Linked DNA regions of Homo sapiens: regions 1 and 3 are each linked to region 2. Evidence: fine-mapped expression QTL. A gene starts in region 2. Each other region holds a variant in brackets. All regions are shown on one strand. Distances are between the middles of the regions.

The links. PIP is the estimated chance that this variant, and not a neighbour inherited with it, causes the effect. A credible set is the group of variants that fine-mapping cannot tell apart.
Region 1: its variant is the best candidate, but not a certain one, in a credible set for the expression of PELO in whole blood (TOPMed, PIP 0.50).
Region 3: its variant is the best candidate, but not a certain one, in a credible set for the expression of PELO in platelets (CEDAR, PIP 0.87).

The regions. Positions count from the first base shown.
Region 1 is chr5:52,831,267-52,834,031 of GRCh38, forward strand. All of the region lies in intron 1 of ITGA1 (integrin subunit alpha 1), which reads left to right. Among named protein-coding and RNA genes, the nearest start is that of PELO-AS1, 32 kb to the left of the region's middle. The variant T/C (reference allele first, on the strand shown) is at 1,244.
Region 2 is chr5:52,786,694-52,789,458 of GRCh38, forward strand. It overlaps PELO (pelota mRNA surveillance and ribosome rescue factor), which reads left to right and starts at 1,223. Exons shown (of 3, transcript NM_015946.5): 1 at 1,223-1,721. It overlaps ITGA1 (integrin subunit alpha 1), which reads left to right and starts at 1,223. Exons shown (of 29, transcript NM_181501.2): 1 at 1,223-1,721. The coding sequence starts at 1,661. All of the region lies in intron 1 of PELO-AS1 (PELO antisense RNA 1), which reads right to left. RefSeq lists an enhancer at 911-1,190.
Region 3 is chr5:52,821,441-52,824,205 of GRCh38, forward strand. The region is part of intron 1 of ITGA1 (integrin subunit alpha 1); the gene reads left to right. Among named protein-coding and RNA genes, the nearest start is that of PELO-AS1, 22 kb to the left of the region's middle. The variant C/T (reference allele first, on the strand shown) is at 1,214.

The DNA.
Region 1 (2,765 bases), 45 kb after region 2:
GGATTACAGACGTGCACCACCACACCTCGGCTAATTTTTGTATTTTTAGTAGAGATGGGGTTTCACCATGTTGGCCAGGCTGGTCTCGAACTCCTGACCTCAAGTGATCTGCCCACCTCAGCCTCCCAAAGTGCTGGGATTACAGGAGTGAGCCACTGCACCCAGCCAGAAAGTCACACAGAGGGTTACCCAAACTAAGTCTCAAGATACCTGTTTCTAATGACTTTTAGATAGCATAGACCTCTTTATTGATTAAATAGGAAAGAGAAAAGAAAAAAAAACTCTAGAATTTTTAGGATTCATAAAATTGGCATCACAATAACAGTAATCACTTATGGCTCCTAAGAATTTTTTCTTTTTTTTTTTTAACCTTAAAGATTAGTTAATTTAATTACATCTTAAATACATCTCGCAAGTGACTACAAATTCTTTGAGGGCAGAGACAATATATTTTTTTTACCTTTTAATCCCTTAAAGACCTTCTACCTTTCCTTTCACATGGGACTTTTATTAATGTCCGCTGAATGAATATAACATATTCATAATATAGTCATGTCTATACATTGATTAACATATTTGTTATCAACTGCAGAGTAGGCCCAGTCTTTCTCTTTTACTCTCTGTCCTTTTAAGAATTTTAAGAGCTTTTTGGGGAAAATAAAGTAAGAAGAAAACAATGAGTCATGTCTTTGTAGCCATCTAGATTTCTTAGCTCTGTTGCCTCATTCTTCCTCCTCATTCTTCCCCCAGCCACGGTGGAGAAATAAAGTTGTCTGGGGGCTCATTACTGGACTACCCAATCTCAGTTCCCTTCTGTACTTTAGAACTCTCTCCTTCCCTCATCTTGATTTCACTAGGCCACACTATAACCCTGCTTCCTGGAGAGAATCAGACCCATGTAAGCTCTTGAGCCTCCTGTTCCATGGATCTCTCCACCAAGACAAGAGCCTACTCCAGGCTGCCAACCTGAGATTAGAGAGTTCATACTCTGATTGGTCCCCATAGAATTAATCAACGGTGGCCAAGAGTGTAGGTAACTAGATGGCTCATTCAGATCTGATACTCATTCCTGGACTTGTCAGCTGTGGCCTGGGTGGCAGAGTCACTTAAAAACATTGCAGCATCTTCAGAAATCTTTGGTTGGAGTAGAATAGATGCCAAAAAAGGTAGTTGTTGGCTTCTGATGAAATGGAAGGGTCAAATTAAATAATAGCTGAGGTCTCATCCCTTCTACCCATAAGAT[T/C]CTATGATTTATCACTAAAACAATCACATATTAGGAGGTCATAAATAATTCTACACAAGTTCTTCTAATCTCCATATTTTCTTACACCTATGGTCAAATACATCTCTCTTGCAAGAATTATATAACCAAATATTACATACACTATGTTAGAATAAAGAATGAACACTATCACTAGAACTTGGAAGCAGATTTAAATACTGAAAAATATTATAGGTATCGAAAAGACCCTTTTTATTCTGGCAGAAATATATAAATCTGTGTGTGTGTGTGTGTGTGTGTGTGTGTGTGTGTGTGTGTGTGTGTCTTCTGGTGCTATTTCTCAAAAGAGTTTTTTTTTGGTAGATTTTTTTTGGTTACTTTTTTATTTCATTTTGTTAAGCCATCAAAAGCTTTGAGATTGGGCTGGGCATGATGGCTCATACCTGTAATCCCAGCACTTTGGGAAGCCAAGGTGTGTAGATCATTTGAGTTCAAGAGCTCGAGACCAGCCTGGCCAACATGGTGAAAACCCATCTCTACTAAAAATACAAAAATTAGCTGGGCATGGTGGTACACACTTTTAATCCCAGCTACTTGGGAGGCTGATGTGGGAGGATCACTTGAACCCAGGATGTGGAGGCTGCAGTGAGCCAAGATAGTGCCACTGCACTCCAACCTGAGTGACGGACCGAGACTCTGTCTCAAAAAAAAAAAAATGCTTTGAAATTAGCCTTTACCTGTGTGTACTACAATTTAAAAGGCCATCTTTGAAAAGACAGTAAAACAGACTTTTACTATGAAAAGCTACCATCTGGAACCCTTAGTAAACTGACTGTTGTCTCATAAAGAGTACAACCAAGCCTAATGCAACTTAATTGTTCACACAGTTATGTAAGATGTACTTCTTCTATAACTCTACAGGACTTAAAAGAACTCATAATACTATATGATTGTATTATGGGTTCCATAAAACATTATGACAATGTATTTTCTGGAAAAATGTTTCCTAGTGAACATGCATACCCCAGACATTTTACCTTTCTCTTAAATTATTCCATCTGATTTTACTACCTTGCTCTTGCTAGAGTTAAGAGTTTTCTGAAAGCTTATTCAGTGTTAACTAATGTTACTTTTCCTGGGCCATTTTTGTTGGTATTGAGTTTTTTCTTTATGTGATCATAAAGTTATAGTTTAGAACAAGGTTATTTTGTTGCAAGAGTCTATTTAGGTGTAATATTTTTTAAGCAAATTGAAGTTGTTCTGATAAATGTTTATCTAAATTAAAATATAACTCCATAAACTATGATGTGGCCATTTAAAGGGGAGGTATATTAACTTTGTGGAATTGTGCCATTAAAGACAAAGAAAAAGAAAAAAGAAAAGCAGTTGGCTGGATGAAGTAGTATAGAATTGCAAACTTACATGAGATAATAATTAGAATCAATAAGACACCTAATGGAAAAAGAATATTCATATGATATATTCATTCATTCAACAAATTTTATTAAACACATCATCTACCAATGAATCTATGAAGATCAGG
Region 2 (2,765 bases):
AGACAGAACTGAGAAATGACATTATAAAAACTAAAAACGGGAGAACGAGATTTTTAATGTATTTACTAAATAGTGAATCAGTTCAGATACATAATAGAAAAGGAATTTCTTGATTAATGGGTCAACATACTGAGATCTGATGGCCTTCAACCTCCTTGGGTCTGCCCACCCCATTTTTGACGCTCCTTAAACTTCTTCAACTTTTGTCTTCTCCAGCTTTTAGTTGCTGTGATCCTCTATCTGGCAATGTATCCAGTGAACCCTGTGGGCTTCTTCCTTCCTGTCCCTCGTGTTACCTGTTCTGTGCTACCTGTGTTGCGTTCTGCTCAACGAACCCTCCTTTGGGTGGCACTCTTGTCCTGCCTAGCCCTAGTTCTGCTAGAGATGCTCAATTAGTTGTTGAGTTGAAGAATTGAATTGAACTGTTTCCCTCAGATTCCTCTAAACACAAATCCACTTATTCTTTCTGTCTTTGAAATTCTCAAAACCGCTAAGACACAGCTATTTTGAAAATAGCCAGCATTGGTTGAAGCTAGGGTGAATATGGCTTTTGACTCAGAGAGGTTGTTCAACTCACCAGGAAAGGGAAGCATTGCAAGTTCCTAAGCACTTCTGGACTCTTAATGCATTTTCACTCGTGAAAGTTTCAAGCAAGAAAAAAATAAAGTAGTGCCCCGAGTTCTTTATTAGATTCAATTACCAGCGTACAAACATCCTAATTCACTTAAACAAAATAGCCCACACACATTCCATTTCCAAGGAGGCTGCTTTTCTTCCTCTCTTCCCTTCTCGCTCTCCCTCTTACTGTTTTTCCTCCGTCTTGCTTCTCCTTTTCTCCCCTTATCCTAGTTATCTCAAAGAAAAGCTTATCTGCAACCACCCTTTAACCACGAATTACCATAAACGAAGCAACCCCCCCACCCCCCCATAAGCGAAAGCAAAGCCCTCAGTGGAGCCTGTCGGGGTGGTGGGGACGCCCCCTTTCGTGCAAAACGACTTCACGGTGAATTTCAAGTGTCCGCAGGGGATGGAAGGGGGGATTCCAGATCCTCGCATTTTCACAGACGGCCTAATCCCTCTGCGCAATGGACCCGGGAAAGCTGCCTCCCGTTAAGGGCGCCCAGGCACTGTCAAAGCGCCCTCCCTGCCCGGGCCGGGAGAAGTAAGGGGTGTGAAGGCGGAGCCACTGGGCTGGCAACACCCTCCCGAAGGTCCAGCCCTTACCCGCCTTCCTACCACCTTAGGGGATTTGGCCCGGAGAACGAGATCACCCTCTCAATGAAAGGCAGATGTCCCTTTAAGGTTTGCTTCTACAGCCCGTGGACTTTAGCCTAAACACGGACCCGCGAAGCTGGCTTTATTTGTCCATGTCTCGGACAGAGCCTGGGAAGCTGCCAGTGAGATTTCAGAGACCAAGAGCGCGAAGGGGCGGGCGATGTGGCAATCCGTCTGGGATGTGAAAAGCGTGGAGCGCATTTAGAGGAATTCGACGAAAACACAGGAAATCACTCCTCTCCCGCTCCTGGGCGCCGCTGCCACTGGGGCAGAGGACTGGGAACCGCGGCAGCGGGATAAGTGGCCCAGCCAGAGAGCGCAGCTCCCGCGCCCGGTCCTGCCCTGCGAACCAGCGCGGCCCCCTGGCGCTGAGGCTGCTCCGGCCATGGCCCCTCGGCCCCGCGCCCGCCCAGGGGTCGCTGTCGCCTGCTGCTGGCTCCTCACTGGTGAGCGACTCGCTTTTCTCTGAGCATCTCCTGCTCGCGGGCTTGGGGCTTGGAGCGGGGAGGGAGGTCCTCAGAGCCATGGGCCAGATAGGAAGAGAGAGCGCCCATCCACTTTCGGGCATTCCAGGTACTCAGGCCAGGCTACGGGGCAGGCAGGAGTTTCGCGTTCTGGTTTTGATATGAATTAGTTTTCGTGTCTCTCCAAAGTCCTTCACCCTAGGAGTAGGAGTGAGGCAGCACTGAAAACCTTAGAAGGTAGAATTCACTTTTAAAATTAAAGTTGTTTTTACAATACACATTGTATATTAGGACTTTGCTGAATATTTCCTCCCCTCCACCCTTTTTTATGGCATGGGATGGGAGGGTGATGCTTATAGGGCGCCTGATACATATGCAAAATTCCTACCCTCGGGTTGTTCCAGAGTGGACATTATTGAATTTTCTTGCTGTCTACTATTTAGGCTTTTTTCCCATGCAGAACAAGAAAAGGCAGGGATGCAAGACGAAACTGCCACTTGTTCCAAAATGATGTTTCTATGTCAGCACCCAAGAGGAGGGATATTTTGAAACGTAGAAAGGAATGGTGAACATTTTCTCTGTAAATATCACAGGGCAGTCTACTTTTAAGATGCAAAATATAGTATTGTTATTTGTACATAAATGTGTATTTTTAAGGAGGGGACTTAAAAACATAGTGGAAATGCAAAGTTGTATCCAATTTAGAAAAAGCTTGAAATATAGCATTTTGTAAGATTTTCCCAATAATGAACTCATGGTCAGATCTTTTTTACCAGTTACTGATTGGGGTGGGGGAAAGTTGAAATGGTGAAAAATGGAAGAAGGTGGGGGGAAAGTGTATCGATAGAATCTCTGTGTGAAAGAAAATCACCTTATTAATGGGTTAATTAACAGCTGGCTTTAACATATCATTGATATTCAATTGTTCAGTGTTTTTACTGCTGGCATGGTTATTAGTACTAGTTAATTTAGCATTTTTACCACTAAAAACAGGGTAGAGCCAGCTAGTTTAGACCTGCCTTAGAT
Region 3 (2,765 bases), 35 kb after region 2:
CTATAAGGAAATTTGCTCATACAGAATTGGTAAATGGAAAAATGATGTCACTATAATACATAAGTCACTATAATTCAGTTTTCCCTAGCACCTTAATGTTTATACTACCAATGCCACCACTTGAATGCCAAATACACTAAGAGTTGGACACAGTAAGCATATACTCATACAGTATTGTAAGGAATTCCCATTCTCCTTGTATTCTTCCTCTTTGCCTAGTTTTGCTGTGTGTGATTTCTTGGAAGGGCTTATATAATTGGCCCCAAACTTAGTTCATTTTGCCCTTGTCCCCACAACTATTCAGCCTTAACATTTTCTTACTTCATTCCACTGTAATCATTTATTTAGTATAGAATTTATTAGGAATCTAAATGCCTTTAAAATTATGCTAGTATTTTTATTTGAGTTGTTTCGACTTTATGTTTTAGCTAAAAAGGTGTATGGACTTTGAGTTGACTGCCCCAACTCTGTTTTTATCATAAGCTGTATGATTTTTATGTGTGATTTTGTAGAAAACACAAGATTGCTTTTAGGAATGAATATATCACATTATAATAGAAATATCTGTTTTCTTGCAACTTAAATTGCATATATTTTATGAATGGAAGAATGTCAACAACAAAATTGGCAATGGGACTATTTGAGAATTTGCCATGTGGAGGCCGTTTCCTGACCTTTTATCCTTTATATGCTAGAGTGCTTTAGAGTTTCCAAATGGTGTTCATATGTGGAATTTTATGTCAATCCTTGAACAATACTACAAGGATCATTATTAACATTTCTACTTGATAGACTTGGAAATCAAGGCTCAGAGGAGACAAATGTTTTGCCTACAGTAGATTGGTGACAACATTCTGGCTATAATTAGTTACTCTATTCAAATAAACATATTTGAGCTTCGATTTTACTTAGGGCACTGGGGATACAAAGATAATTAAAATGAAACTCAGTCCTCATCCAACCAGTTGCCTCTCTTCTTCCTCCCACTGATTCAGGGACACTTCCGTTTGGACTGGGCAGAGCTAGACAATCTCAAACTCATAGAGGCATCTGCATTGCTAGTTTCCTAGAAGAGCTGGAGGCTGAGTATCCGGACTGCTCTGCATAGGGGATATGGGACACTTAGGTGGCTCCTGGCCAAGTGGCCCAAGCCTGTTGCTGACTGGAAGTCTGTCACTTGGCTCTCCTCCCTCGCCAGTTCGTATTGTAGCCT[C/T]TACCCTTGACACTGTCTCACCCAGTGGAAACACAGCTGCAAGAGCTGCAGAAGGCCTATTACTTCTAATCTTTCTGCTTCGTATGATCGGTAATTACACCCCAGGGACACATAATGAAGATGGTTCATCACTGCTTTTTATGTGCTTCATAGTGTGAGATAGTGGACTGGGAACTTGAATCAGAGCAAGAAAATTGTTTTCTGCTCTAGGTTTGGTCACTTAAACTAGCCACAGTATATTAGGCAAAATATTTCAACTGCTTGGGCATCAGTGTTCTCATCATTTGAGGACACTGTCTCATTAGATGGTCGAATAGGGACTTTTCCAGCTATAGCCTTCTGAGATTCCTCAAGGACACATCGAGTTTGTATTGCATGGTCAAAAGAGGGCTCCAAGGAACCAGGTCTAACAAGCTTTAAGGTGAGTGAGTTCTCTCAATGGTGCCCCGACTTTCCTGACATCCTTCTGAATCTTAGACAAGCCTCGGAGAGAGATACTCATGGAATGACCAAAATGGTAGCACCAGATCTGTATGAGGTATTTAATCATTTTATTTTATTTTAATTTTTAGACAGAGTTTTGCTCTGTTGCCCAGGCTGGAGTGCAGTGGTACGATATTGGCTCACTGCAACCTCCGCCTCCCGGGTTCAAGCAATTCTCCTGCCTCAGCCTCCCGAGTAGCTGGGATTATAGGCTTGCGCCACCATGCCCAGCTAATTTTTGTATTTTTTAGTAGAGATGGGGTTTTGCTCTGTTGACCAGGCTGGTCTCAAACTCCTGGCCTTAAGTGATCCACCCACCTCAGTCTCCCAAAGTGCTGGGATTGCAGGTGTGAGCCATGGCACCTATCCAAATCATTTTAAATGGTGATGATTATGTCCAATAAGTCCATCTTATTCTCTTGGGCATCTCAACCTTTTCCTGCCTTAGGAAAATGGAGGTCCTCTAACTCCTAAGATCTTGTCACATGATCCTGCTGTAGGCAGAACCCACACCAGTTAAATGTTTATTTACTTGATCAATGTTTAGCCTGTGGTTGGCTTTTAAATATCCCAACGGAGACTGAGAAAGCAGTGCAGAGAGTGCTAAAATACAGACAAAGGAAAAGAAAGAATTGGAAACTAGGAGAAAACAAGGAAAAAAGAAGGGGAAAGTGCTTTCAGCATTTCTTTTCAACTTCCTCTACATGCTTAGAAAACAGAATTGACTTTTGTATGTCTGTGGTAGCTTTACAAATAAATTAAACATATTATCAACGTTTGCCAATTTATTTTACAAGTATACGGAATATCATTAGCACATTCTGGTGATAGTATGTCAGATATTTAAAGAGCTCTAGCTTGAAGAAAATGGGCCTTACTTTAAGAGTGCTATATTTGTTTTATGTTCTCATACTTAATGATCTGGGACCTAATTTTCTTCAGCCCTGATTATGCTTTGTTTCATGACCTTTAATATATATATATAGTAATCATTAAATCAAATAATTATAAGTCACTTACCAAAGGAATTAAATATGGAAAATGCATTTGAATATGTACATGATTCATC